3 separate regions of the Homo sapiens genome follow, and all the other regions are linked to region 1. Evidence: fine-mapped expression QTL. A gene starts in region 1. Each other region holds a variant in brackets. All regions are shown on one strand. Distances are from middle to middle. Region 1 holds the start of PLPP7 (phospholipid phosphatase 7 (inactive)). Region 2 has its middle 45 kb from the start of EXOSC2. Region 3 overlaps LOC105376299 (a long non-coding RNA gene).

What was found.
Region 2: its variant is fine-mapped to the expression of PLPP7 in prefrontal cortex (ROSMAP, PIP 0.95).
Region 3: its variant is fine-mapped to the expression of PLPP7 in left ventricle (GTEx, PIP 0.92).

Annotation. Positions count from the first base shown.
Region 1 is chr9:131,284,806-131,294,906 of GRCh38, reverse strand. PLPP7 (phospholipid phosphatase 7 (inactive)) reads right to left here and starts at 5,184. Exons shown (of 2, transcript NM_032728.4): 1 at 4,459-5,184. The coding sequence starts at 4,909. RefSeq lists enhancers at 5,298-5,417, 5,996-6,911.
Region 2 is chr9:130,733,977-130,744,077 of GRCh38, reverse strand. It overlaps a transcript of ABL1 not described here. Among named protein-coding and RNA genes, the nearest start is that of EXOSC2, 45 kb to the right of the region's middle. The variant AT/T (reference allele first, on the strand shown) is at 4,715.
Region 3 is chr9:131,330,298-131,340,398 of GRCh38, reverse strand. All of the region lies in intron 1 of LOC105376299 (a long non-coding RNA gene), which reads right to left. Among named protein-coding and RNA genes, the nearest start is that of PLPP7, 46 kb to the right of the region's middle. RefSeq lists an enhancer at 9,318-10,101. The variant G/T (reference allele first, on the strand shown) is at 5,498.

The sequences.
Region 1 (10,101 bases):
TTGGGAGGCCAAGGTGGGTGGATCACCTCACGCCTATAATCCCAGCAGTTTGGGAGGCCGAGGTGGGTGGATTACCTGAGGTCAGGAGTTCGAGACCAGCCTGGCCAACATAACGAAACCATGTTGGAGAATTGCTTGAACCCGGGAGGCGGAGGTTGCAGTGAGCCAAGATCTTATCACTGCACTCCAGCCAGGGCAACAGAGACAGACTGTGTCTCAAAAACAAACAAACAAACAAACAAACAAACAAACAAAAAGATACTTTCATAAAGGACATAGATCAAGGAACAAGACCAGAGGCATTTCCCACCACAGGACAGGCCCATGAGGAAACAAGGATGGGCTTAGTGAACTGGGATGGGCCTGGTCACCTGTCACCTGTCACCTGGCTCCCTTCGGATCATCAAGCTGGGTGCTGCTCGGGAGGGAGAAGGGGACAGGTGGTCTCAAGGCATCTAGAGCTTGGAAGGTACCTGGCAGGAGGCTGGTCCTGGACTTCTGACAATGATGACGGTGATAATGATGATGATAATCATTGCTACTTAACCGTTAACCAACATCAGTAAGTGCCAAGCACTTCATGTGTGATTCATCAGGGAGATTTCCCAACAACCCACCTGACAGATGAAGAAACTGAGGCTCAGAGAGGCAAAGTCACTTGCCTGAGTTCCCACAGCAGGGCTGGGATTTGCACTCAGGTCCGGCTGCCTGTGGAGTCCAAACTTTTGCCTGCTGCTAAGACCCCTTCTGGCTCTGAGCTTTCTAGAGTCTTGACAGTGTGCACTAGGAGAGGGGCAAGCAGGGAGGGCATGGGACTGCTTGCCAAGCAGGGAGCATGCAGAGAACTTCCCCAGGCCCAGCAGGACCCTTCCTAGGCCTCGTAGCTGCAGCTCCCATTTCCCAAGCTCCCAAGTCTGCCTCTTCAGAGCCAAGTGGAACCCAGGTCCCAACTGCAAGCTCGGAGGTCTTGCTCCCAGCCCAGAGACTGCCCCTGGGGGTTAGCTGAGTGCCACGGGGCCAGAGCGGGTGGGCAGGGCTAGGTAGGGCTCCCTCCCCCTTCAGTATTGCAGTGATGTCACCGTGTGGCATGGCACCCACCATGCCAAATGCTTTGCCATCTCCCTTCACATCCCTGCCACATCCCCCTCAGCCCCCAGATAGGGAAACTGAGGCTCAGAGACAGGAACTGACTTGAGCATGTGCGTACAGCAAGTAAGGGTCAGAGCAGGGACCTGGACAATAGCCAGTCTCTCCCCAGAGCCTGTGCTCCAGGGTTGAAGGGTGCCCTCCAAAGACAAAAGGACAGATGGAACCTGCAGCGTGTGCTCAGTGGGCAGTCTGCTTTCCCCGGGGCAGGGGACTGTGGGACCTTCCTTCCTGGCAGGTCAGACCAGAGCTGCAGGATTAGAGCCTGCCTTGGCCATTTGCTGCAATTTTCTCCCACCAAGCCGAGGTCTGGGCTGGCATCCCCACAGAGTGACCTCGGGGTCCCCAGACCCACCCGGCCTGCTCTGTGGCCTATGCTGAATGCCTGACTTGTGCCAGGCCCTATGTCCCCATGGCCTCAACACCTGGATATGAAGACAGTCAACCTCCTCCCAGATCATTCCCCTCCGCAAAGCACACACGCTCCAGGAGTGCAGTGAACACGGGTGATATGCCCGACCTGCAGCCCCACGGTGAGCAGCGAGGAGTGGGGGGGTTTGCAGTCACGGGGCCTTGGATTTACTTCCTGAACCTACCGCTTATAGCTGTATGGTGGGCAAGTTGCTTGAGCTTTCTGAGCCTCAGTTTACTCATCTGTAAAATGGGCATATTAATATTTACCTTGAAAGGTCATCGACAGCTTTTTTACATCATAAAATACAGGCCGTTCATGCCATTGTCTTTGGTACATAATAAAGCTCAATACATGATGTTTTTAAAGATTTTTAAAAATGTCTATCACTTCTGTTCAAGGAGGAAGGCAACTCAAATCTTCATCTTTATCCTGTGGGGCAAACAGCTTTGTGCCCATGGCAGCTGGCTGCTGGAATGAGCCTGAAGCCTTATCTTAACAAGTAGGTTGCAAATTTTTCAATGTTTGGGGCAGGGGAAATGTTCTTAAAAGCAAACATTCCTGTAAAAAAAAAACAAAGCAGAGCTATTTTACTTGGTGATGTGAGGCAGCTTGCTTGCATACCTCCTACCACGGGGAGCTCACCCCCTTACTAGAGCATCCACTGACTGTGGGTAAGTTGAGATGCACCTCCTTTCTTCTCTGATCCTCCCCCTGCTGGAAGCTTCACACAGTCTGAGCTGGTTCCCTCTCCCTCTCCTCTGAAAACGCAAAGCAAAGCTAGAGTTGCTCCTGGTTCTGCTCCTGGCTCCATCACTGACTAGCTGCAGGACCTTAGAACCATCGTCACCCCATGCCTCAATTTCCCCCTCTTTAAATGGGGAATAATAACAGCACCAAGCTCCATGGGTTATGGTGAAGATCAGAAGTAATGATATGGTTTATGCAAAGCCCTGGAACACGGTAAGCACTCAACCAATGACATCTTCATCACCTCCCTTGTCACATGGGGAAAGAAGGTGGGAAGGAAGAGATGGGGTCAAGGGAGCAGGGTTGAGAGACAGACTGGAGTGTATGCCTTCCCACCCCATCTTCTGACAGCAGGCAACCTACCTCTCTAAATCCCAACAGTCTTCTTGAGCCACGTGGCCCTGTGTGAAACTGTGGATAATGAGAGCAGGTTCTGCCCCTGGAAGCGCCTGGCCTAGTGCCTCGGCCACTTTGCTCTGTCCCTCCCTCCCACGCCCATGGCACAGCACCTGGAAGAGCAGAGGCCTGTGTGTCAGCTGGAGCCAGTGCAAATCTCAAGCCCTGAGGCTGGGCCAGGTTGCTTTATTTATAGGAACCTCAGTTCCCTAATCTGTAAAATGGGCATGATAATGGCACCAACCTCGTGAGACTGTTTATTCAGGAGTAAATCATAAGTTATTGTAATGTAAATAATTTAGTAATAAGAACAAGAAAACTGGCCAGGCACGGTGGCTCATGCCTATAATCCCAGCACTTTGGGAGGCCAAGGCGGGTGGATCACCTGAGGTCAGGAGTTTGAGACCAGCCTGGCCAACATGGTGAAACCCCATCTCTACTAAAAATACAAAAATTAGCTGGGTGTGGTGGTGTGCGCTTGTAATCCCAGCTACTTGGGAGGCTGAGGTAGGAGAATTGCTTGAACCCGGGAGGCGGAGGTTGTAGTGAGCTGAAGGTTGTAGTGAGCCAAGATCGTGCCACTGCACTTCAGTCTTACAGCCTGGGTGACAGAGCGAGACTCTGTCAAAAAAAAAAAAAAAAAAAGGAACAAGAAAACCTCGAAGGTGGCAGACCCAGCCATCTCCTGCATGAAGTATCCAATGGTTTCTGCCTCCCCGAGTCCCACCCAGAGAGCATAGAGCCTCCAGACTGAGACTAGAGCAGGGAGATACGTGTTTTTATTGTAACTTCCTCTGGAACTGATGTTCTCCGTGGTCCAACCCAATGCCCTTTTGGAACTGAGACCCCTTGTTAATGTTTGCCTTGCCTGAGACCTCCACCTCACATGTCCCTCAAATGATGGCCACACCGGGAAAGACAAGGAAATCGATGCGGGCCTGGCGTGGAGGGTGGAAGCTTCCTGGGGCACCTTGGGGACCTGGTGGTGCCCGAAGGGTGGGCCGGACGGGGGCTGGGCATCACCTCTGGGTGGAGGGAATGGCTTGCCTCCACATGGGCCCCACGTGGCACCTGGCACAGGGCGGTGCTAATCTGCAAGACATTGGTGGCAAAGACTTTGCAAACAAACAAACCCACAACTGGCCCCCCGAACCCTTCTCCAGTGACTCCCCCTGGGAAGGAGCAGGGAAGAACTCCAGGGGGCTGTGAGTGGGTGGCAGTCCCAGGGGAACTCCCTGGGTCCCCAGACCCTGGGGAAGAAGCCTGGGCAGCTTTCCCGGTTCCTGAACCGAGGCGGGAGGTGCTCATGGGGCAGCTCACGGGAACAGCCTGGCTGGGAGCTGTCAAGGAGCGAGGACCTCAGCCGTGGGGCAGGAGTCAAACAGTGACACCCCATTCCAGGATGCCCACCAGAGCCCTGACCGTCTCCCTTGAGGCCACCGCCTCTGGCCCAGCCTCCCTTCAAGCTGCCTCTGGGCAGCGGTGCCTTTTGCTGAGCAGGTCCTTCTCACAGGGCCGCAATGGCCTCTGTCTTCATTTGGCATGTGGCAGGAGAGCCTCGTCTATGCATCCCTGGCTGTCGCTCCCCCACGCCGGAGCCTGCCTGTTTCTGGGGCACCCTTCCTGCCTAACCTCATTAGACCATCCCAGCCGGTTTCTGAGGGCTGTGCAGGTCCCGGCCAGGGTGGGGTTGGGCAGGCCAGGCTGCCTCCCGAGGGGCCTGACAGTGAGTGGCGGGCGGCAGGCACACTCACCCAGGAGCAGATTCATGAGCACCTCCTGGCCGGCCAGTGTGCTGCTCTTCACCAGGCAGAGGATGGTGCCTCCGATCCAGGGGATGCCGTGGCCCGTGATGCCGATGAGCTTGACCATGGAGCGGGCACTGGCCCAGGACGCCGCCCGGCCAGCGCACACCCCCAGCCGCTTGGACATACAGATATCGATGGCCAGCAGGGAGTTGAAGGCGATGCCCTTGAAGGAGGGGTTCAGCTGCATGCAGTCCTCCTCTGGCAGCTGCTGTGACTGGCGTCGCTCTCTGGCCCCGTCACCAGCAGGTGGGGGCTGTGCTGATGGGCCCGAGGCCTTTCTGCCCGAGCTGCGGGGCTCCGGGCCCCCCTTGGGGGGCTGGTTCAGGGACAGGAACTCAGCCCGGTTGAGGACGTTGTTGCGGTCCCGGGCACGGGCCCGGCTCTGGGAAGCTGGCATGGTGACCTCGCTCACCCCGAGAAGGCCGATGCCAGCCCGGCTCCAAGGGCCTTCTCCCCGAAGACAAGAGCTGCCCCCAGAGCCGCCACCGTGGCTGCCTCCCTGCCTTCTCCGCCGCAGCTGTTAAATATAGTGTGGAGAGTTGCACATGGCTGTTTATCTCCTCTGCCACCCAGCTCCAAGGGGACGTCAGTGCCAGCCGGGCAGCCAATCGAGCCCTCCAATGCGGGGCCTGCACCAGCAGAGCCTCCGGGAGGTGAGGAGTCCACAGCTGCGGCCTGGCTGCCTCGGGCCTGGGCTATTTAAATCGGCCAATGGCTCATCCCTGGGCTTGGGGGACTCTGGGAAATGTAGTCCTCCGGCTGCTCTGGACTCTGCAGTGGCCTTGGCCTCTGAAGGGGCAGAGGTGGGACCTGGGCTTACCCTGCTTTTACCAGCTTCCCTCTGAGCCGTCCAGACCCCTGCAAGTCAGGCCTGCCTGCCCCAGCTGCCGGGCAGCTTGGACCTGGTCCTGTAAACTGGACGGTGTTGCTTGGGCCGAGGCCTCTTTGGGCACCAGATGGAGTGAACGACGTCACTGACAGCATCATCTTGGGTCCCTGGGGCCAGGTCCAGCTCCTCCCTCTGTGACAGCATTCATTCAGCTGGCAGGTCTTTTTTTAAATCAGTCTTGAATTCAGCTTCAGTGCATCACAGTCCAATCAAACGACACTCCGTGAGCTCTGATTTCCACCGGAGGGAGGGGTCATGAGTTGGTTGGTAATGGATTGCCTCTTGGAGGTTGCCTCCACTACCTGGAACTTCGCAAAGGACGGGAGTGTGACAGCAGCTTCAGGCAACCCGTAAATAGTTTCCGAGCGCCTGGCAGTGTGTCAGTGCTGGGCGCACTGCGAAAAGCTCACAGCTCAGTGGGGATGGAAAGAAGGACACGTGTAAGTGGTCACAGGTGTGCAAATGTGTGGCAGGATCCTAGAAGCGGGGCTCTGGGGGCTCTGGGTCTGGTCTGGGAATCAGGGACGGCTGCCCCCAGGAAGGAAGAACAAAGGGGGAGTCCCATTCGGGGACAGCCTGCCTTGCAGGAGGCCCAGGAGGCCCGTGTGGCTGCATGGGGCCCAAGGGGACGAGAGGCTGCAAACCCAGAACGCAGACCCAGAGGGCCCAGCTGAGGATTCCGGATGTGAGGGAGGTATCCCTGCTCCCATCTGGACCACCTGTGGGAACCCGAAGTCTCCACAGCCCTTTTAGGGCTGATTGGGCCTGGGCTCGATGGGGGAAGCTGCCAATTTAAGCTGACCAGAAGAGTCAGAAGTGAGCTCCTCCGTCTCCTGATTCTCAGTGGCCAAGGCCTGTCTGCTCGCCCAGATGAAGGCAGGGGGCTGCAACTTCTCTTCCAACCATGGAGCCAGCCCACGGTGCCTCAGGCCCACCTAGAGCCTCCCAAGAACAGGAAGCTGCCCTGGGAGGGAGTGGGTGTTCCCTGGCCATGGGGGATGGGCACCCAGGCTCTGGAGTCAGACAGACGGGGCTCTGCCCCGCCATCAACCAGCTGGGAGACCTTGAGCAACTCACTTGGCCTCCCTGGGCCTTGGTGTTTCCACCTGTCGCATGGGAATGACAGTGTCCACCTCTTAGGGCTCTCGTGAGTCCGGGTGAGACAGTGTTTGTGAAACGCTGAGCTGAGTCCCTGCTGCAGAGTGAGTTAGGAATCAATTTCAGCCCTGTGGGTTAGTAATTGATTTCATTTGACAAACGAGGCACAGCCGTCTCTTCCTTTTGAGTGCCCGCTTCAGAAGGGCCCAACCCTGTGGTCTGGCCTCCACCCCTTTCCTGGCAGGGATGAGGCCAGAGTCCAGGAGCCTTCAGTCTGGGGTTCCCTGCAGACGCCCTGGCTGGGTCCAGCTGGGCTGGAGCAGGCTAGACCTGCCTCATTCCCCACTCTTCCTCTCCAGCGTGCTCCACTCAGACTGTGCGGCCATAGAGGGGATGTCGTGGCCGCGAGACGTCCTGCCATCTTGGGTGCAGCAATGATGACATGTGCTGCTTCATCCCGGACACTAGACGGCTGGAACCTGGCGCACATGGAAGTGTGCACGCCAGGCACGGATATTGAGCGTGTATAAGCTCTTTGTGTGCTGAGCTCTCTATGTGTTCAGCTTATCGACAAAGTCTAATGACAGTCCTGTAACGCAGCTGTGATATCCCCATTTACAGACGTGGAAGCTGAGGCTGAGTGGGTGAAGGCCTCGAGCCAGGAAGCTGAAAAGAGAAGGGGTCCGGCTCCTAAGTGGTCCCTATGGGGGGTGGCACGAGGGCCGCTGGACTCAGATCCCTGGACCACAGGGAACTGATCTGCTCATCTCCCCACCAAGCACTCACCCCATTCTCCCTGGGTGGCCTCAGGAGGGGCACAGGAGCCCGGCCCAGACAGGGGCTATTAATACCCAGAGGCTGTGTCAGCATTTCGTCTGGCTAGAGCTGCTGGCATGTTCTGAGAGCCACAATGGGCCTCACACTGTTGGGGCCATGGGGTCTGATTTGGCTCCTGCCCAGCAGTAGTTAAGACATAAAGTCTGGGGTAGGATGGCCCCAGGTTCAAACCCTGGCTCAGCCACCTCCAGAGTGACCCCAGGCAAATCCTTTCGCCATTCCAAGCCCGTTTTCCCCTTTGAGGGCTGGCAAGAAGATTGTGTGAAGGGCTCTTTCTGTCTGTGATGGTTTTGGTGGCTTCCTCCAGGACCCTGAGACCTGCTCCTCTCCCTTGTATGGTGGGGTGACACTGTTCACAGTCTCAGGTAGCTGGGAAGCAAGAGCAAGCAAGCTTGGTGGGCTAACCTGAACCACCTACTATAGCACCCAGATACAGGGAGGCAGGATGGGACCACAGACACTCCTGGTTGCCTCAACCCACAAGCCTTTATTTTTACTTTATTTTTTTAGAGACGAGGTCTCACTATATTGCCCAAGCTGGTCTCGAACTCCTGGGCTCAAGTGATCCTCCTGCCTCCTCCTCCCAAAGTGTTGGGATTACAGGCACGAGCCACTGTGCCTGGCCCCCACAAACCTTTATAAGCACCCAATATGGGCCGCACAATCCCACTTCCCAAGAGACTGAGAATTCATTCATTCATTCATCCATCCATTCATTCATTCAATGCTTTTATTGATCTCGTCCTCTCATTGATCTCGCAGTCTAGTTGGGGATACCAGGACACACATCCACAAAATAATTAGCCAATTTATAAAAGAGTATAATTTTACCAATAGCCTTATTTTTTCTTACTATCAAAGTGTTACATACTTACTGCAATAGATTCAACACACGCGGTTGATATAGGTTTCATCCTACCACCCAGTGTTAACGTGAGGGTGATCAGGATATAAACGGTTTCTCACTTGTCTCATTTCCAATTACTAAAATATTTTGCATCAACCAAGCATTACTTTATTAATTAGAAAATAATATATACTAAATAAGCTATATCTCTATATATCATATATATGCAACATACACAAAAATATGCATTTAAAAATTATTATTATTATTTTTTGAGACAAGGTCTCACTCTGTCACCCAGGCTGAAATGTAGTGGCATGATCTTGGCTCACTGCAATCCCTGTCTCCCGGGTTCAAGTGATTCTTATGCCTCAGCCTCCCGAGTAGCTGGGACTACAGGTGCATGCCACCACACCCAGCTAATTTTTGTATTTTTTGGTAGAGACAGGGTTTCAACCATGTTGGCCAGGCTGGTCTTGAACTCCTGACTTCAAGTGGTCTGCTGCCTTGGCCTCCTAAAGTGCTGGGATTACAGATGTAAGCCGCTGCGCCTGGCCCCAAAATATGCATTTTAAACATGTGATGACATTATACATTCTTCTGAAAAGCAACCTATCCTTTTCACTTAACAATATAAATCTGGCCATGTTTCCATGACACTCTATTATTTTTCAAAGGCTGCCTGGCATTTTGTCACATGGATGGGCCAGAATTTATGTAACCAATCCCCTGTTATTGGACATTTCATTGTTTCCATTGTGTAACTATTCAAAAACTACTCTAGGGTGGCTGTCCTTCTGCATATATCCCTGTGCTCTAAAGCAGGATAGAAACAAGTAGTCAAGGCCGGGCGCAGTGGCTCACGCCTGTAATCCCAGCACTTTGGGAGGCCGAGGCGGGTGGATCATCTGAGGTCAGGAGTTCAGGACCAGCCTGACCAACATGGTGAATCCTGGTCTCTACTAAAAATACAAAATTAGCTGGGTGTGGTGGCTAACGCCTGTAATCCCAGCTACTTGGGAGGCTGAGGCATGAGAATTGCTTGAACTCAGGAGGCAGAGGTTGCAGTGAGCCAAGATGGCACCAGTGCATTCTAGCCTGGGCGACAAGAGCGAAACTCCGTCTCAAAAAAAGAAAAGGCCGGGCCAGTGGTTCACGCCTGTAATCTCAGCACTTTGGGAGGCCGAGGCAGGTGGATCAGGACTTTGAGACCAGCCTGGCCAATGTGGTGAAACCCCGTCTCTACTAAAAATTCAAAAATCAGCAGGGCTTGGTGGCGTGCACCTGTAATCTCAGCTACTCAGGAGGCTGAGGCAGGAGAATCGCTTGAACCCGGGAGGCAAAGGTTGCAGTGAGCCAAGATCGCGTCATTGTACTCCAGCGCCTGGATGACAAGAGCGAAACTCCGTCTCAATTAAAAAAAAAAAAGAAAAAGAAAAAAGAAACAAGTAGTCAAGGTGGGGTGGCTGGGACCATGCTGGGAGGGATCCCCATGGGATCTGGTGGGCTAGCCCAAACTACCTACTGTAGCGTCCAGACATGGGAGGCAGGATGGGGCCACAGACACTCGCGGTTGACAAGCCAAGTCCAACCACCCTCTTCCCATGTTAGAGGAACAAGTGCAGGCCCAGAGTGGTGACATCACTTGTGAGGCCACACAGCTAGCCAGGGCCAGAGCTGGGACTTAGGCAGGCCAGTCCCTCTGACTCTGAGCCTGTGAGCTGTCCTCCTGGCCACGTGTCCCACAGCTTCTCTGTTCCCTGCCTGCTTGGCCTCGTCTGTCACTCATTCACTTACTCATTCAGTTTCATTCATTCACTCACCAACACTTTTTTTTCTTTTTGAGACAGGGTCTCGCACTGTTGCCCAGGCTGGAGTGCAGTGGCATGATCTTGGCTCACTGCAACCTCCAACTCCC
Region 2 (10,101 bases), 550 kb after region 1:
AAAAAAAGTTAATAAATGTTACCAGTACTAAAATTTGTTTTAAAGATAAAATGTTTGAATATTTGTATGCAGCAAGCATGTTGTTTCCAAAAATATCCTTAAGGGAGCATAGAAACACACCCGCTTCCAATCCCTCAATGTGGCCACTCCAGACATCTGCCTAACACCATGCCTCTTGATGGCCACCTCCCCTACCTCTTTACAGGACAGCTACATAGGGCCTATGTGGCTCACCCCTCTTGTTCCCCGACCCCACAAGTACTAGATGAATATGCTACAGTGACCATGTCTCAATCACAGCGTGACCCCCACAAAGCTTGTGCCTGCTCCCTTTAAACCCATCAATTAGAACTATTGGCTTCGGTAACATAATAGCCCTAGGAAACCCACTTGGGAAACTCCCTGGACTCCCAATAAAGGTTTTGGCCCAGGATTCTCTCTCTCTCCTCTCTGGGATCAGTAAGTAATAAAAATACTTCTGCTATTTCATGTGTCTTGCTGTGCTGCTCTGTGTCTCACCTGACCAATGCATTCAAACCTATTTTCCTGGGCAGGGCTAGAATCTATAGCCACTCTCAAGAGAGAGACCTTAGGACCAAATTAGAATTGACATTTGCAAAAGAGCCAGGAATACCAGGAGGTGGGGAATCACTGGGGGTCATCTTAGAGGCTACCTCCCCCAAGCACTATTAAAAGAATAAACTAGGCTGGGCGTGGTGGCTCACACCTGTAATCCCAGCACTTTGGGAGGCCAAGACGGGTGGATCACCTGAGGTCACGAGTTCAAGTCCAGCCTGGCTAACACGGCAAAACCCCATCTCTACTAACAATACAAAAATTAGCCGGGCATGGTGGCGCAAGCCTGTAATCCTGGCTACTTGGGAGGCTGAGGCAGGAGAATCACTTGAACCCAGGAGATGGAAGTTGCAGTGAGCCGATATCACGCCACTGCACTCTAGCCTGGGCAACAAGAGCGAAACTCTGTCTCCAAAAAACAAGAATCAACTTTAGTGTAAGATGTTAAAATAGCTGTATGACAAATGTTAAATCAAGATTTTAAAAAAACGGTGAAGCAAATTCAGTCCCATTGCTCATTAATAATAATTTTTTAGAAACAAAAAAATTTTGTACCAGTAACGCATTTTTTAAAGTTTTAAATATTTACAATGCAATTTATTTCATCTTCATTTTCATTTTATGAATGCTTTATAATATACGGTATTATACAGTATATATTATATAATATAAAGTATCTTAATAGCACATACTAATGTGCGTACATCTGATATACATATAAACATACATACGATACACACATATTTGTTTGCTCACAAAATTCTAATAAGGGTACATGACCTTTTTTAAAATGAAGACTGTTACTCTATATAATGGGAACCACCAGAGAGTTTTGAGCTACTGAACCCCAAACTTAGATTTGCACTTTAGAATAAAGGCTCTTTATTACCAAATTTACCAAATTACCAAGTTTACCAAATTACCAAAGTTACCAAAGCATTATTTGGTAGTGCCTAGCACAGAGAAAGCCCTCAATGGCAGCAACAGGTAGGGAATATGTGACGAAACCTGGAGTCTAGCTAAGATGGGTTATTTAAGCACGGCCCATCATCTGTAAATCTAGTAATGGCCTCCAGTTTTCCCAATGCACTTCAGGAGAGGTGGAAGTGCTTTTGTTGAAATGGGTCTCAACTTCTAGCCAATGGAGAAAAAGCTTTAAATGTAGTCATCATCAGTACATCTCAGAAGTATGTGGGTAAGGGCATTGACCTGGATTAATCACCGAAAAGCTACGTGTGCATCTCACGTGACTCACTGCTGAGCATAATCCCCAAAATGGCATCCACCACAGTTAGGGCACACAAGTGGCAAAAAGTACCAGTACTCCTCACAGACAGCCATCCTTTGAGTTCAGCCAAAACCAGGGGCAACCAGAGAACATACATGACTCGGTGGGCTGACGACTGAGCCTCGCACCACAACAAAGGACTAGGTCTGTGGAGCAAAAGGTCACAAGGCTAGGTTCCCTTCTCTTCCCAACTGCTCTGTAAAGGGCACCCAGGCCCTGTCTGAGAAGGTCTGGGCCAGGGACACCACAGCCACCATGGCACTGATCTGTTAAGGGGCAGGAAGCTGTGGCACTCACCAATCCCAACCAGCTCACTTTACCCCTTTTTCCAGGCCCTCATCCAATTTCCTTTTCAGTACGTTGTTCTTATCTTGCTCCTGTTTTTCTCTACACTAGGTTGGAAATGCTTGAGGACAGGTATGGTCTCACCCCTTCTGTACAACCCAAAGGTCTTGGTCAAAATCAGTCACTCTGGCATGGTAACTGGTATACCAGTGCGGTAACTGTTACTCCGGCATGGTAACTGGTATACCAGTGTGGTAACTGTTACTCCAGCATGGTAACTGGTATTATCAGTGCAGTAACTGTTACTCCGGCATGGTAACTGGTATACCAGTGCTGTAACTGTTACTCTGGCATGGTAACTGGTGCATCAGTGCGGTAACTGTTACTCTGGGATGGTAACTAGTATATCAGTGTGGTAACTGTTACTCTGGCATGGTAGCTGGTATACCAGTGCTATAATTGTTACTCTGGCATGGTAACTGGTGCATCAGTGCGGTAACTGTTACTCCGGCATGGTAACTGGTATATCAGTGTGGTAACTGTTACTCCGGCATGGTAGCTGGTATACCAGTGCTGTAACTGTTACTCTGGCATGGTAACTGGTGCATCAGTGCCGTAACTGTTACTCCGGCATGGTAACTGGTATTCCTGCTCCTCTCCCTCGACCATGGGTCTGCTGTGGCATTTGTGGGTGCCAGGCAGCACCATGACTAGCACTCACACATAACAATGCAGCCAGTCCCTTAGTCTAGGAACTCTGTACCTCAACACGGAGAAGTGGCAAACCTCCAGGACCCTTCTAGCCCTTTGACTAAAGGATATCCCAGGAGCAGGGATGTGGCTCCTTAGTCTATGTACCTGTGGCCATTCATTGCTATATAATAATCATTTGTGATCCTACTGTCTGAACATGGAGTCACTCGTGTTAGATGGCATTAAGCCCACCATGCAGCTGTTTACTCCTCACAGTGATAAGTGAAGGCCAGCTGCAGTGACTCACACCTGTAATTCCAATACTTTGTGAGGCCGAGGTAGGAGGATCCCTTGAGGCCACCAGGAGTTCAACAGAGTGAGACCCTTCTCTACAAAAAAAAAAAAAAAAAAAAAAATCTGGGTGTGGTGGTGCACACCTGTAGTCCTATCTACTCAAGAGACCGAGGTGGGAGGATCCCTTCAGCCTAGGAATTACAGGCTGAAGTGAGCGATGATCGTGCCACTGCAATTCAACCTGGGTGACAGAGCAAGACCTTGACTCAAAAGAAAAGCAAACAAAGAATGATAAGCACATGTGTACTAGCCTGGCAACTGAGATCATAGTAAAATTGTTTTTCTTCGAAGTGATAAACATACGTCTAATAGAATAAGGTGGTGAGATAATAACACCTGCTGTGGCATAGTACCACCACCGATGGAAAAATGGAGCCAAGAGCTGGCTGAGACCATGATACTGGGCAGACCTTTGGAGAATCATACACACAGCAAGGAGCTGATGATGTCTGGGGCGCCTTTGGAATCTTTGCCCATGAGAACTCTGAGGCCTCCTCCTAGCATGACAATTGCCGCCCAGCGGCTCTCCAGGAGAGGAACAGCCACTCCTCACTTACTAGCATCCAAGGGACTTCCAACCCACTTGAGGGTCCATCAGTGCTCTGACCTTCTGAGCCATCCCTGTGGTTCATTGTCCCCCTAATTACAGCCTTTAATAACCACATTGTGAATGTTTGATTGATTGTGTGTGTGTGAATCTCTCAATAAATGGCGAATCTGAGCATTGCTAATTGGCCACTGAATCACTGTGAAACATTCCCACTTCAGTGGAAGTTGGCATGCAGGGCAGTGACCTGATTAAAATAACATTTAATATTAACATAATATTAATTACATAATTCATTATTAATTTACTGGAAACTCCTCAGCAAGCCAATTTAAACAAAAAACTTTGATTCAATTAAAGGATCATAACTTAGCAACTCTTCTGATTCACTTTAACATTGTGACTACACATTTTTTATTGTTATTTTTTATTTTCTGTAGAGATGCGGTCTCCCTATGTTGGGGTCTCCCTATGTTGGAGGCTGGTCTCAAACTCCTGAGCTCAAGTAATCTTCTCACCTCAGCCTCCCAAAGTGCTGAAATTGCAGCGTGAGCCACTGCATCCAGTCATGATTATACATTATTACAAAGCAATGATGTGGACTTACCAGTACCCACAGAAGTCATACCATGGTTGGATCAACTTATAAAATCCATACAGTAATTATGAGTTCCTGATGTGGAAGCAATAGAACCCAAATGCACCCTGAAAAATGGTCTTAGGGCACCTACTTTTAATTAGGATAACTTTCATTTGAATAGGGGTTAAAGTATCATTGATCATGCTGATTGAATTTCAAATAGCTTTCTGAATCAATTTTCCTTGATTGAATAATTTACAAAAATGTATGTTGTTTTTATAATAAATAATAAAGCTTAAAAATTTTTTTTACATTTATATTTCCTGAAGGTTTTTCTCCATTGTAACCATATCTCAATTAAACTTTTTTAAAAAGCCTTCAAAAAAAAAAA[AT/T]CAGGAAGGACTATGCATTTAGATTGACAATGATTGTGAATAAGACAGTGCTGAGGATGCTACGAACTAAACATCACATCATGTCTCACTCAAGGTAACACAGAGCTACAAAGGCAGCTTACCACTAACAAACAACATAAGCACTGCTTGCCTAAAAAGACACATATCGGGCCAGGCACAGTGTTTCACGCCTGTAATCCCAGCACTTTGGGAAGCTGAGGCAGGTGGATCACTTGAGGTCAGGAGTGCAAGACCAGCCTGGCCAACATAGTGAAACCACGTCTCTACTAAAAAAAATACAAAAATTAGCCGGGCATGGTGGCACGCGCCTGTAGCGGGTGGCTCCCCGCTACTCTGGAGGCTGAGACAGGAGAATTGTTTGAACGAGGGAGGTGGGGGTTGCCGTGAATCGAGATCGCACCACTGCACTCCAGCCTGGGCGACAGAGCAAGACCCTGTCTCAAAAGAAAAAGACACATAACACACAGAAGGATACATCTGAGGGAAAAAATGTTTTCTCCTTATATCCTCTAAACAATAAATTTGTTTTGAATGGGGAGGGAATAACTACAGTAAGTTCTCACTTAATGTCATTGATAGGTTCTTGGAAACTGGGGCTTTGAGCAAAATGACATATAACAAAACCAATTTTCCATGATTTGTCCATCAATCAGCAAGGTAATTGATATAAACAAGAGTTAAGTTCCACGAGGACACTGGAGAATGTGTAAATTCCAAATAGACAGTAGCTCCAGCAGGGAATTGATTTTTTTTTCTCATCAACATGATAATGAAACAATAGTGAATGAAAGGCCATTATCTGGGGACCTGCTGTATTACCATCACTCATGTCATGTTTTAATATTTTTGTGTGTTCTTCTTCATGCACACAAACTATCTCATTCCAGCAACTACCTGTAATGAGCTTTTCAAGAAATATAAACTCCGGATTGCTAGTAAGTTCTTAGTTTTCATTTCTTCCTTATTGTTCTGAATATTAAATATTAAAAGTTATTCGACTACTGCCTGGAACTTAGTAAGCATGCAACCCAAGTTACCTGTTACTACTATTGGTCTAAATAAGGAAAGACAATTAAAATACAAACACTAGCATGACATTTCTTTCCCCCTTGTGCAATGTTCTGATTGTATCTTTGCATTGAGACTACAATTTCCTTGGTCTCGGGTCTTATCTTTTGGTTTTTCTCCTAATAGACCACCATTCCTCAAGAAAGGACACTGCAGTGGCTCATGCCTGTAATCCCAGCACTTTGGGAGGTGGAGGTGGGCGGATCACGAGGTCAGGAGTTTGAGACCAGCCTAACCAATATGGTGAAACCCTATCTCTATTAAAAACGCAAAAAATTAGCTGGGTGTGGCGGTGCACATCTGTAATCCCAGCTAGTTGGTAGGCTGAGGCAGGAGAATATCTTGAACCTGGGAGGTGGAGGTTGCAGTGAGCCGAGATTGTGCCACTGCACTCCGGCCTAGACAACAGAGTGAGACTCTGTCTCAAAAAAAAAAAAAAAAAGACACTGTTCTGAGACAGAGGCTGTTTTAACACACAGGCAAAGGGGGCAAACAGTAGGCACAAGCAGATGCCAAGGAAGACACTGGAACTGAGCAGATGCCTCAACATGACTTTTTCACTAGTCTCAGCCCTGTTAGCACCAAGAACCAGCTCGGTGCTCAGCAGGCTTTAAACTCTGCTTGTGGCTTCCCTGAAACGTAGTCTGGACCAAACATAAAAGCTCCTTAAACCTGAGGTACTGGGTTCTTTAAACATGTCCAGGTGGCTGGGTGTGGTGGCTCACACCTGTAATCCTAGCACTTTGGGAGGCCAAGGCGGGTGGATCATCTGAGGTCAGGAGTTCGAGACCAGCCTGGCCAACATGGTGAAACCCCCATCTCTACAAAAGATACAAAAATTAGCTGGGTGTGGTAGTGCACACGTGTAGTCCCAGCTATTTGGGAGGCTGAGGCAGGAGAATCACTTAAACTCGGGAGGTGGAGGTTACAGTGAGCTGAGATGACGCCACTGCACTCCAGCCTGGGAGACAGAGTGAGACTTCATCTCAAAATAAATACATAAATAAAATAAATTTTTTTTTAAATTTTAAAACTGAAAACATTTTTTGAAAAAGAAGATGCCTGCACACCTCCTTATGGTCAGAGTGTCCTCCCTATTTCAACAGTCGTTTTCCCCTCCTTGCAAAAATCCTTTTCAATAAAGTCTCTCCTTACTAAAAAACTAAAACAAAACAAAAAAACTGATACTTAGGCCTCTCCCCAGACCAATTAAATTAACCCCTGGGGGTAGACCTGGAAACAGTCTTTTCAAGCTCCTGAAAAGCACCTACTCAGCAGGTCCTCTGGAGCTTGGAATAGGGCAGTTCCTTGTGACATGCTTGGGCAGTGAAGGGGCATAGACAGGGTACTGGATTCTATATAGGCAATCAACTAGGCCCTACATAGTTTCCTATTTAAATATCTGCCACACAAAGAACCTGATGAGATGGTTCACAGAAAGATAAGTATGTATCTCCCCTAAACATGTTAAAAACGTTCAACCGGCCGGGCACAGTGGCTCACGCCTGTAATCCCAGCACTTTGGGAGGCCGAGGTGGGCAGATCACCTGAGATCGGAAGTTTGAGACCAGCCTGACCAACATGGAGAAACCCCGTCTCTACTAAAAATACAAAATTAGCCGGGTGTGGTGGCACATGCCTGTAATCCCAGCTACTTGGGAGGCTGAGGCAGAAGAATTGCTTGAACCTAGGAGGCGGAGGTTGCGGTGGGGCCGAGATCACACTACTGCACTCCAGCCTGGACAACAAGAGCGAAACTTCGTCTCAAAAAACAAAACAAAACAAAACAATGTTCAACCTCACTCACAGAAGACCTACCATTTAAAACCATACTAAAATACTATTTCTTAGATATCAGATTGGAAAAAGTCCCAAAGCTTGACAATACACTCTCTTAGCTAGGCTTTGGGGATGAAGGCAACCTCTGTATTACCAGCGATGGGACTGTAAACTAGAATGATGTCTACGGAAGAAAATGTGGAAATATCTACCAATATAGATCTCTATTACTCTATATTAATACAGGCCAGGTGTGGTGGCTCATGCCTATAATCCCAACACTCTGGAAGGCCAAGGAGGCACTTGAGCCCAGGAGTTTAAGACCAGCCTGGGCAACATGGCAAAACCCCATCTCTACAAAAAATACAAAAAACAGCCAGGCATAGTGGTATACATTTATAGTTCCAGCTACTAGAGAGGCTGAGGCAGGAGTATCACTTGAGCCCCGAGGACTGAAGCTGCAGTGAGCCGAGGTCATGCCACTGCACTCCAGCCTGCATAACAGAGCCAGACCCTGTCTTAAAAAAAAAAAATATATATATATATATATATATATATATGCACACACATGCATACACACACATATACACACACATATATATACACACAGACATACGCAAAATGGTAGCTATCTACCAAGTAGAATCCATCTACTAACAGAAATGACAAACGCATGTACCCTTAAACCCAGTGCCCCGACTTTTAGGAATCTCTCCCACAGCTATAACGTTACCCCTGAAGCACTGTTTATCATATCTAAAGACTGGAAACACTCCAAAAGTCCAGAAAGGGAACTGGTTGGAAAACCAATGATACTTCCAAGATAGTGGAATTCAATGCAGCCATAAAAAGAAGGAAGATATACATATTCCAATATGGGGAGATCCTGAGGATCTATTAAGGGAAAAACAAAAAAGAAGGTACAGAACGGTATATACTGTATGCTATCTTTTGTGTAATAAATATATATTTGCTTGTATTTGCAAAAAAGAACACTGGAAGGATAAAAAAAAAAAACCACACACAAAAAATTTTCCAGAGGAGTAGGAGAAGGAAAAGGACAGAGTGGCAGAGGTGCAAGCAAGCTTCTGAAAATACATGTTTGTTCTGTAGCTTTGTAGTTTAAATTAGAAAATGTATTATCTATTCAAAAGTGTTCAATTTAGGCCTAGCACAGTGGCTCATACCTGTATTCCCAGCACTTTGGGAGGCTGAGGCAGGCTGATCACCTGAGGTCAGGAGTTCAAGACCAGCCTGGCCAACATGGTGAAACCCCATCGCTACTAAAAATACAAAAATTAGCCAGATGTGGTGGCAGGTGCCTGTAATCCCAGTTACTCAAAAGGCTGAGGCAGGAGAATCGCTTGAACCCAGGCGGCGGAGGTTGCGGTAAGCCAAGATCATGCCATTGCACTCCAGCCTGGGCAACAGAGCAAGGTTGTATCTCAAAAAAACACAACAAAAAAAGTTCAATTTAATTTTAAAATAAATCGTAAAACTGCCACAAAGCTTGTAGGACAATGTATAAATTTTTTAAATTATAAATAATTTTATAATTATAAAATTTCATAACAGCATAAAATTATAAATCATAAAAGCATACATAAGGTATGTTTGTTACACACCGCCATTCCAAAACACTCAACTACCAAAGGGTAAGAATATTCAATAGAGGCTGGGCGCAGTGGCTCACACTTGTAATTGCACCGCTTTGGGAGGCTGAGGCGGGTAGATCACTTGAGGCCAGGAATTCAAGACCAACCTAGCCAATATGGCTAAACTCTGTCTCTACTAAAAATACAAAAATTAGCCAGGCTTGGTGGCACACGCCTGTGATCCCAGCTACTCGGGAGGCTGAGGCAGGAGAATTGCCTGAACCTGGGAGGCAGAGATTGCAGTGAGCCAAGATCATGCCAGTGCACTCCAGCCTGGGTGACGGAGTGAGACCCTGTCTCAAAAAAAAAAAAAAAAGAAGATTCAGGCCAGGCGCAGTGGCTCACACCTGTAATCCCAGCACTTTGGGAAGCCAAGGCGGGCGGATCACGAGGTCAGGAGATCAAGACCATCCTGGCTAACACGGTGAAACCCTGTCTCTACTAAACATGCAAAAAAAATTAGCCAGGCATGGTGGCGGGTGCCTGTAGTCCCAGCTACTGGGGAGGCTGAGGCAGGAGAATGGCATGAACCCAGGAGACAGAGCTGGCAGTGAGCCGAGATCGCGCCACTGCACTCCAGCCTGGGTGACAGAGCGAGACTCCATCTCAAAAAAAAAAAAAGAATATTCAATAGAGTATTAAAAATCATACCACGAAATTGTGAAAAAATTAAAAATTTGATTAAATTCTAAAGCTAGACCCCACTCATTTCAATGATGCAAATGTTTTCAAAATGCATTAGTCTATCCTCAAAAAGTAATGTTTCCAATTGAAAAACACTCAAGCTGTCAAGAGACACTTGATTTCAACCACAGCTCTAAAACTAATCAGCAATGTAACCCTAAAAACACGACTACCCAAAG
Region 3 (10,101 bases), 45 kb before region 1:
AACAGAACAGAGCCCTCAGAAATAATACCACACATCTACAACCATCTGATCTTTGACAAACCTGACAAAAACAAGAAATGGGGAAAGGATTCCCTATTTAATAAATGGTGCTGGGAAAACTGTCTAGCCATATGTAGAAAGCTGAAACTGGATCCCTTCCTTATGCCTTATACAAAAATTAATTCAAGAAGGATTAAAGACTTAAATGTTAGACCTAAAACCATAAAAACCCTAGAAGAAAACCTAGGCAATACCATTCAGGACATAGGCATGGGCAAGGACTTCATGACTAAAACACCAAAAGCAATGGCAACAAAAGCCAAAATAGACAAATGGGATCTAATTAAACTAAACAGCTTCTGCACAGCAAAAGAAATTACTATCAGAGTGAACCTACAGAATGGGAGAAAATTTTTGCAATCTACCCATCAGACAAAGGGCTAATATCCAGAATCTACAAAGAAACAAATTTACAAGAAAAAAAATCAAACAACCGCATCAAAAAGTGGGCAAAGGATATGAACAACCACTTCTCAAAAGAAGACATTTATGCAGCCAACAGACACATGAAAAGATGCTCATCATCACTGGCCATCAGAGAAATGCAAATCAAAACCACAGTGAGATACCATCTCACACCAGTTAGAATGGTGATCATTAAAAAGTCAGGAAACAACAGGTGCTGGAGAGGATGTGGAGAAATAGGAACACTTTTACACTGTTGGTGGGAGTGTAAACTAGTTCAACCATTGTGGAAGACAGTGTGGTGATTCCTCTAGGATCTAGAACTAGAAATACCATTTGACCCAGCGATCCCATTACTGGGTATACACCCAAAGGATTATAAATCATGCTAATATAAAGACACATACACACGTATGTTTATTGCGGCACTATTCACAATAGCCAAGACTTGGAACCAACCCAAATGTCCATCAGTGATAGACTGGATTAAGAAAATGTGGCATGTATACATCATGGAATACTATGCAGCCATAAAAAGGATGAGTTCATGTCCTTTGCAGGGACATGGATGAAGCTGGAAACCATCATTCTGAGCAAACTATCGCAAGGACAGAAAACCAAACACTGCATGTTCTCACTCACAGGTGGGAAGTGAACAATGAGAACACTTGGACGCAGGATGGGAAACATCACACACTGGGGCCTGTTGTGGGGTGGGGGGAGGGGGGAGAGATAGCATTAGGAGAAATACCTAATGTAAATGATGAGTTAATGGGTGCAGCAAACCAACATGCCACATGCATACACATGTAACAAACCTGCATGTTGTGCACGTGTACCCTAGAACTTAAAGTATAATTTAAAAAATAAAATAAAAATAAATAAATAAATAAAGTGTTAAAAAAAGAAAGAAATATCAACATGAACTTATGAATTTGGGGGTAGCCTTCCTGTCTTTGGCACACTGGAAGAGCTGTGGCGTAGTTTCTCAGGGCTACGGTAACAAAATGTCACAAACTGGTGGCTTAGAACACAGAAATGTTCTGCCCCAAATTTCTGGAGGCTTGAGGTCCAAAGTGAGGGGGTGGAAAGGGCCACGCTGTGTCTGAAGGTGCTGGGAATCCTCCCTCCCAGGCCTCTCTGCAGCCTCGGCCACGCTGCGTCTGAAGGTGCTGGGAATCCTTCTGCCCAGGCCTCTCTCCAGCCTCCAGCAGCCTCCAGTGTTCCTTGGAGTGTGGCGGAGTCACTCCTGTCCTCCCTCTTCACAGCCTGTCTTCTCCCTGTGTCTTTTTTTTTTTTTTTGAGACAGAGCTCTGTCACCCAGGCTGGAGTGCAGTTGTGCAATCACAGCTCACTGTAACCTCCGCCTCCCAGGTTCAAGCAATTCTCCTGCCTCAGCCTCCCAAGTAGCTGGGATTACAGGCATTCACCACCATGCCTGGCTAATTTTTGTATTTAGTAGAGATGGAGTTTCACCATGTTGTCCAGGCTGGGCTCGAACTCCTGGGCTCAGGTGATCCACCCATCTCAGCCTCCCAAAGTGCTGGGATTACAGGCGTGAGCCACTGCGCCCGGCCTTCTCTCTGCGTGTTAATGTTGCTTTCCCTCTTTCCTTCTGCATGTCTTCTCTGTGTGGCCATTTCTCCTTTCTATTTTTTATTTATTTATTTATTTTGAGACAGAGTCTTGCTCTGTTGCCCAAGCTAGAGTGCAGGGGCATGATCTTGGCTCACTGCAACCTCTGCCTCCCAGGTTCAAGTGATTCTTCTGCCTCAGCTTCCCAAGTAGCTGGGATTATAGGCATGCACCACCATGCCTGGCGAATTTTTATATTTTTAGTAGAGACGAGATTTCACCATGTTGGCCAGGCTGGTCTCGAACTCCTGACCTCAAGTGATCCACTTGCCTTGGCCTCCCAAAGTGCTGGGATTACAGGCATGAGCCAATACGCCTGCCCCCCTCCTTTTGATTTTAATTTCATATTTTTGAGATGGAGTCTTACTCTGTGGCCCAGGCTGGAGTGCAGTGGTGTGATCCTAGCTCACTGCAGCCTCAAACTTCTGGGCTGAAGTGATCCTCCTGCCTCAGCCTTCGGAGTGTCTGGGACCATGGCATGTGGTGCCACCACACCCGGCTAGTTTTATGTTGTTATTGAGACAGAGTCTTCCTATGTTGCTCAGGCTGATCTCAAACTCCTGGGCTCCTCCCACTTCAGCCTCCTAAAGTGTTGGGATTACAGGCGTGAGCCACTGCACCGGGCCACATTTCCCCTTTTTATAAGGACACCGGTCATATTGGATTAGGGTCTCACCCCCCGATGACCGCATCTTAACCCGGTTACCTCGGTAAAGACCACATGAGGTCACATTCTGAGGGACTGGAGGTTAGAACATCAGCATATTTTTTTGGGGACGCACAATTCACCCCTTAACAGCCTGTAAGCAAAGACAACTTGGTAGCAGCGAGCACAGCAAGCTCTCAGATCCTGGGGCATTTGCTGCTGGCCTTCCTCAGGTCAAAAGATCTGATGCTGCCCCTACTCCACTCACACATCCAGCTGAGGCCCAGGGGTTGCAAAAGCCTGGACTGGAGGGTGTGAGGACCTTTCACGAACGCCGCCTACCCTGAGCTAGCTGGGGGTCCCTGTGCATTACGCAGTCAGGCTGGAGCCCTGGCCCCAGCGGCAGGTGTCAGATTAGAGAAAGAGGGGCTGTAGCTAGGCCAGCTCCCTCATGTTGCAGATGAGGAAACTGAGCTCAGGGGATGTGGGCTGATCTTGGACCACAGAGGATGTTAGTGTTGGGGCCGCACTGGGATCAGGTCTTCCGAGCTCTCCCACCCCTCTCTGCCACCCGCAGCTTGGACACTCCTTGCTCTGGGAGGCCTCCATGGCCACCTGGGCCAGGGCCCTTCATTACGCATCCTACTGCACTGATCGTGACACACAGCCCCTCTCCCCTCATCTCCTCCGGCCCCCATCGCTCCGCGCTGACCCCACTGACCTCTCGCTCTTCCTTGAACTGGCACAGGCCTTCGCTGGCCTCCCAGGTCTCTGCAAAGATCTCTCCCTCACTGCTTCGGGTATTTCCTCAAAGGTGGGCTCCCTGGCCATCGCATCTCAAACACAAGCCTCCTGCTGGCTCTTCCTAGTTCCTCTCCGTAGCTCTTACCACCGGAAAGTTTTGTGATCCTGTTTACAGAGGAGGACTCTGGAGCTCAGGGAGGGTGTGGCTTGTGCAGGCCACTGAGAGGGCAGGACCAGGACCCAGACTTGACTGTCACATTGATGCCCAAACCAGGCAGTGCTGCCCTTTGAGCCTCCAAAGGGAAGGGAATGGGTCTCATTCTCTTTGTCCTCCTTCGCCGTACCATGCTGGTGCATATGTAATAAGGGCCATGAATTTAACTTGATCAGAAAGGGCACATTTTGGACTCCAACTTGGGATAGGAAAGCTCCCTGGCCACCTGAGTTGGATGCCCCTGCAATGACCACCTTTTCCCACTAGAGGGCGCTGTAGGACAGAAACTCAGCCGAGAGTGGCCCTGACAGCCGGGTCCATTGAGACCAGCCTGGACAGCCAGGGCTCCCAAGGCTCGCCCTTCAGGACAGCTGCCTCACTGGGTCCTTATAGCAAAACCAGAAATGAAGTACCATTACCATCCCCACTTTACACATTAAGAAATCGAGGACCAGCCTGGCCAACATGGTGAAACCCCGTCTCTACTAAAAATAGAGAGAAACCCCATCTCTACTTGGAAGGCTGAGGCATAAGAATCACTTGAACCTGGGAGGCGGATGTTGCAGTGAGCCAAGATCGAGCCACTATACTCCAGCCTGGGCGACAGAGTAAGACTCTGTCTCAAAAAAAAAAAAAAAAAAAAAAAGGCCAGGCACGGGTGGCTCACGCCTGTAATCCCAGCACTCTGGGAGGCCGAGGCAGGCAGATCACGAGGTCAGGAGATCGAGACCATCCTGGCTAACACAGTGAAACCCCATCTCTACTAACAAATACAAAAAATTAGCCGGGTGTGGTGGTGGATGCCTGTAGTCCCAGCTACTCGGGAGGCTGAGGCAGGAGAATGGCGTGAATCCGGGAGGCGGAGCTTGCAGTGAGCCGAAATCGTGCCACCCACTGCACTCCAGCCTGGGCGACAGAGCGAGAGTCTGTCTCAAAAAAAAAAAAAAAAAAAAAAAGAAAGGAAAGAAAAGAAAAAAGAAACCAAGGCTCAGGCCGAGCAGTGTGTGGCTCATGCCTGTAGTCCCAGCACTTTGGGAGGCTGAGGCCAGAGGATGGCTTCAGCACAGGAGTTGAGGCCAGCCTCGGCAACATGGTGAGACCCCCGTGTCTACAAAAACAAATACAAATGTTAGCTGGGTGTGGTGGCACAGGCCTATAGTCGCAGCTACTCAGGAGGCTGATGTGGGAGGATTGCTTGAGCCCAGGAGGTCAAGGCTGCAGTGAGCTATGATTGTGCCACTGTGTTCCAGCCTGGGTGACAGAATGACACCTTGTTTCAAAAAGAAAGAGAGAGAGAGAGAGAGAGGGAGGGAGGGAGGGAAGAAGGAGAAAAGAAAAGAAAAGAAAAGAAGGAAGGAAGGAAGGAACCAAGGCTTAGTGTTGATAAGGGATTTGTCCCAAGTGAGCACCTTAGAAATGGGAGAACCAGGGCTGCAACTCAGCTCCCATCCCAAACCCACACTGTTGGCTGCTCAAACCCCTTCCCTCTCCCAGGCTGCTTGGCTCTGTCTTTCCTCCTGGATCCCTTCTAGGAAGGGTCCCTTCAGCTCGGTGAGATTTGCCCAATATGCTCAGCAGTGGGTTGGGGGGCTCCCCCACATTAATTTGTTCTGGGAGACTCTGGGCTGTGGGGCTGCTAGGGGGCACCTGGAGAAGGAGTAGGGGTGGGGCTGTGTTGCCATGGGGAGGGGGATCCGGGCCGCAGGGCTGGGAGTCCTTCTGTTCCAGCCCCTGGCAGAGCCGGCCCCCTGGGAACCGGCCAGGCTTATTAATATCCTGCTGAGTCAGGGGGC[G/T]CTTGAGTTTCGGCATCACAAGACCCAGAGGCTGAGCACTGCAGGGATATTCTTAACTCCCCAGGCACCCTCTCCCTCCCACCGGCCCTGCCCACCCCTGGCTGGGGCCTTGCAGGCCTGAGTTGCCACGTGGCCTGGGGTAAAGCACTTCCCCGGACTGTGAAATGGAGACAAGAACTGTCCTGCCCCGGCTGTAATTAGACAGTGTTCCTAAACGGTTTGATGTATGCGAAGGGCTAAGAAGCAAGAGCTGTCCTGGAAAATGCTTTTTTTTTTTTTTTTTTTTTTTTTTGAGACGGAATCTCGCTCTGTTGCCCAGGCTGGAGTGCAGGGGCGTGATCTCAGCTCACTGTGACCTCTGTCTCCAGAGTGCAAGCCATTCTTCTGCCTCAGCTGGAATTACAGGCGCCCACCACCACGCCCGGCTAATTTTTGTATTTTTAGTAAAGACGGGGTTTCACTATGTTGGCCAGGCTGTTCTCAAACTCCTGTCGTCAGGTGATCCTCCTGCCTCAGCCTCCCAAGTGCTGAAATTACAGGCATGAACCACCGCACCTGGCCTAGAAAATGCTTTTTTGAGGACCTGCTACACAGGGGCCCTGGCCTGGAGGCTGGGGTCCTACAGCAAGGGGTGGCGCAGCCCCTCTCTTACAGAGCTCACTGCCTGCACCCACAGGCCCCCGCCAGCAGCCTCAGCTGAGTGGGCTCGGCCAGGGCTGGACACAAGCTGGGCCTGGGTTTGAGCTCTCCTGGCCATTTGGAATCGGGTCTGGGAGACTCTGGTCACATGGGGTGGGCTCTGTCTAACTGGAAGAGAAACTGGACTTGGGGTGAGGGATCCATGAGGGGCAGCCATGATAGCAGAGGGGGCTGGTCTGCAGAGGATGGAATGAGGCACATGCACAAAAGCCCGGGGCCCCAGGAGAGAGGCTCCCCTGCTCCCAGCTCTGCCCCTTGCACCCTCTTCCCAGCCCAGGTTCCAGGAAGCTGCCCTGTGTCCTCAGACACTGCCCTCATGGCTACTCCCAACCCACACAGCCCTGCAGAGGCAGGTGGAGGGGAGAGCACTTCTTCATCTCCGGGCCCTTGGGATTCCAGCAGTCATGGTTTTTGTGTTTTTTTGTTTTTGTTTTTGTTTTTGAGACAGGGTCTTGCTCTGTTGCCTAGTCTTGTCTTGAACTCCTGGGCTCAAGGGATCCTTCCTCGTTGGCCTCCCAAAGCACTGGGAGCCAGTGTCATGGTTTAAAAACCGTTTACAGGGCTAGGTGTGGTGGCTCACGCCTGTAATCCCGGCACTTTGGGAGGCCGAGGCGGACAGATCACGAGGTCAGGAGATTGAGATCATCCTGGTTAACACAGTGAAACCCCATCTCTACTAAAAATACAAAAAATCAGCTGGGCGTGGTGGCACATGCCTGTAATCCCAGCTAGTGTCTTTCTCTGTCACCCAAGCTGGAGTGCACTAGTTGGGAGGCTGAGGCAGGAGAATCGCTTAAACCTGGGAGGCAGAGGTTACAGTGAGCCGAGACTGCACCACTGCACTCCAGCCTGGGCGACAGAGTGAGACTCTCTCAAAAACAAAAACAAAAACAAAAACAAAACAAAAAAAACCACATTTACATGCCGGGTGTGGTGGCTTGTGCCTATAATCCCAGGACTTTGGAAGGCCGAGGTAGGTGAATCACTTGAGGTCAGGAGTTCGAGACCAGCCAGTCCAACATGGTGAAACCCTGTCTCTACTAAAAATACAAAAATAAGTTGGGCATGCTGGTGGGGGCCTGTAATCTCAGCTACTTGGGAGGCTAAGGCAGGAGAATCACTTGAACCCAGCAGGTGGAAGTTGCAGTGAGCTGAGATCACACCACCACACTCCAGCTTGGGTGACAGAGAAAGACACTATCTAAAAAAAACAAAAACAAAACATTTACTGAGGGCTTACCAGTCCCCAAGCCCATTTTGCGTGCAATATGTGTGCCATCTCCCCAAACCCTCATGAGGTGCCTTTGAGGTAGGTACTTGGTTCTCCTCTTTTTTTTTTTAGATGGAGTTTCACTCTTGTTGCCCAGGCTGGAGTTCAGTGGGCTCACTGCAACCTCCGCCTCCCGGGTTCAAGCGCTTCTCCTGCCTCAGCCTCCCAAGTAGCTGACACTACAGGAGGCTGCCACCACGCCCGGCTAATTTTTGTATTTTTAGTAGAGATGGGGTTTTACCATGTTGGCCAGGCTGGTCTCAAACTCCTGACCTCAGGTGATCCGCCCACCTCGGCCTCCCAGAGTGCTGGGATTACAGGCGTGAGTCACTGCGCCCGGCTGGCCGGTTCTCCTCATTTTACAGATGAGGAAATGGAGTCTTACACGGTAAGTCAAAGCCACTAAGTAATGGAGCTATGCCTCGAATCTGGGCCTGGCTGATATCTGAGCCCTGATTCTTAACCTTCATTCTAGACTCATTCATTCAGTGTGACATCTGTAGATTTGTCGACACAATTAATGGGTGAATAAAATAACTTCAGGCTGGGCGCACTGGCTTATGCCTGTAATCCCAGTACTTTGGGAGGCTGAGGTGGGAGGATCACTTAAGCCCAGGAGTTTGAGACCAGCCTGGGTAGGTGAGACCCCCCTGTCTCTATAAAAAATTAATAAATTAGTCAGGCATGGTGGTGCATGCCTATAGTTCCAGCTACCCTGGAGGCTGAGGCAGGAGGATCGCTTGAGCCCAGGAAGTAGAGGCTGTAGTGAGCCATGATTGTGTCACTGCACTCCTGCCTGGGTGACAGAGTGAGATCCTGTCTGAAAAACAAAACAAAACAAAACAAAACAAAACAAAAAAAACCAACTTTGTACCTAGCAAATTCCTCTTTTCATGTCCTTGACCCCAGGGGCCCTTACACTGTGAGCCCCTGGGGACAGTGACTGGGTCTCCCTCCCCTCACTCCCACCCCCATGCACACACAGGGTCCGCCCAAGGCTGTGCTCCCTGCACAATTTTTTTTTTGAGATGGAGTCTCGCTCTGTCGCCAGGCTGGAGTGCAATGGTGCGATCTCACCTCACTGCAACCTCTGCCTCCCGGGTTCAAGCAATTCTCCTGCCTCAGCCTCCCAAGTAGCTGGGACTACAGGCGTGCACCACCACACCTAGCTACTTTTTGTATTTTTAGTAGAGATGGGGTTTCACTATGTTGGCCAGGCTGGTCTTGAACTCCTGACCTCAGGTGATCCACCCACCTCAGCCTCCCAAAGTGCTGAGATTACAGGCATGAGCCACTGTGCCCAGCCCGCTCCCTGCACATTTGATGGATTCCAGGGTACTCTGTGAACACTGACCCCTCTTCAAATCCTGCCCACAGCTTGTCAAATGGGGCCTCAGCGCAGAAGGCCAGCAGGGCCCTTATCAGTCAGCCCCACATGTGTCTGAGAGCCCACAGCAGGCAGCCCATTCTATGCCAAGCCCCTCACGAGCCCCGTTATCAAGGGACACATTCCAGCCAGGCCTCCCTTGTAAGGAGGGGAAGAGAAAGCCTGCCGCTTTCCGGCCAAGTGGGGAGGGGGCGCAGGGGCAGGAAGAGGATTATCACAGCAGGAAGGCCAGATGCTGGACTTGTTTCTTCAGGCAGCTTGAGAAAACACCACTGGGCTGGCTTGGCCGCCCTCAGGCCTAGAATGTGACCCTTCTCAGGAGGGGACCCCCTCCCTGCACTGCTGGGGTGAGGGTAGGTGGGGACAGGGACAACTGGTTCTTAGGAAGCCAAGAGAGCTCGTGTTTGCTCCCAGGAGCCTGGATGTGGCTGGTGAAGGTGGCTGGGGGTTTAGCCAGAGGCTGGAGGATTCTTCTGGGGAGGGTCTCAAAGCACCTTCCCCCGTGTGGCCTGCTCTCCCCAGGCTCAGCCAGCACCTGCCACGGGGGAGGACTCCAGCTGGTGAAAGAATAAACGAGCCAGAATGCAGGCCTGAAGGCTCAGGCTTTCTTTTTTTTTTTTGAGATGGAATCTCGCTCGTCACCAGGCTGGAGTGAAGTGGTGTGATCTCGGCTCACTGCAACCTCCGCCTCCCGGGTTCAAGCGATTCTCCTGCCTCAGCCTTCCGAGTAGCTGGGACTACAGGCGCGCACCACCATGCTTGGCTAATTTTTGTATTTTTAGTAGAGACAGGGTTTCACCATGTTGGCCAGGATGGTCTCGATCTCCTGACCTCGTGATCCACCCGCCTCGGCCTCCCAAAGTGCTGAGATTACAGGTGTGAGCCACTACTCAGCCTGGGTTTTCTTATTTTGTAGAAAATCCATTTCCCTCGTGCAATACTTGATGAGTCAGGCTTGATAGTGGGTGGTTGAGGATTTGGAGACACAAATCAGGTGGCTGGGTTGGATGTTGGAAAAGTCAGTAAGCTTTGCTGAGTCTCAATTTTCTCATCCTTAATGATAGATATTGGAAGCTCTTTCTTCATGTGGCAGTGTGTGTCAAGGGCTTAGTATAGAGCTGGCCCTGGTGGGTACTGCTGAAACTCTCTCTGTGGGCCACATACACGCACACGCACACACACACACAGTCACACTCACACATACACACACTTAGCACTAATTAAACAGCAGGTGGCCAGGCATGGTGC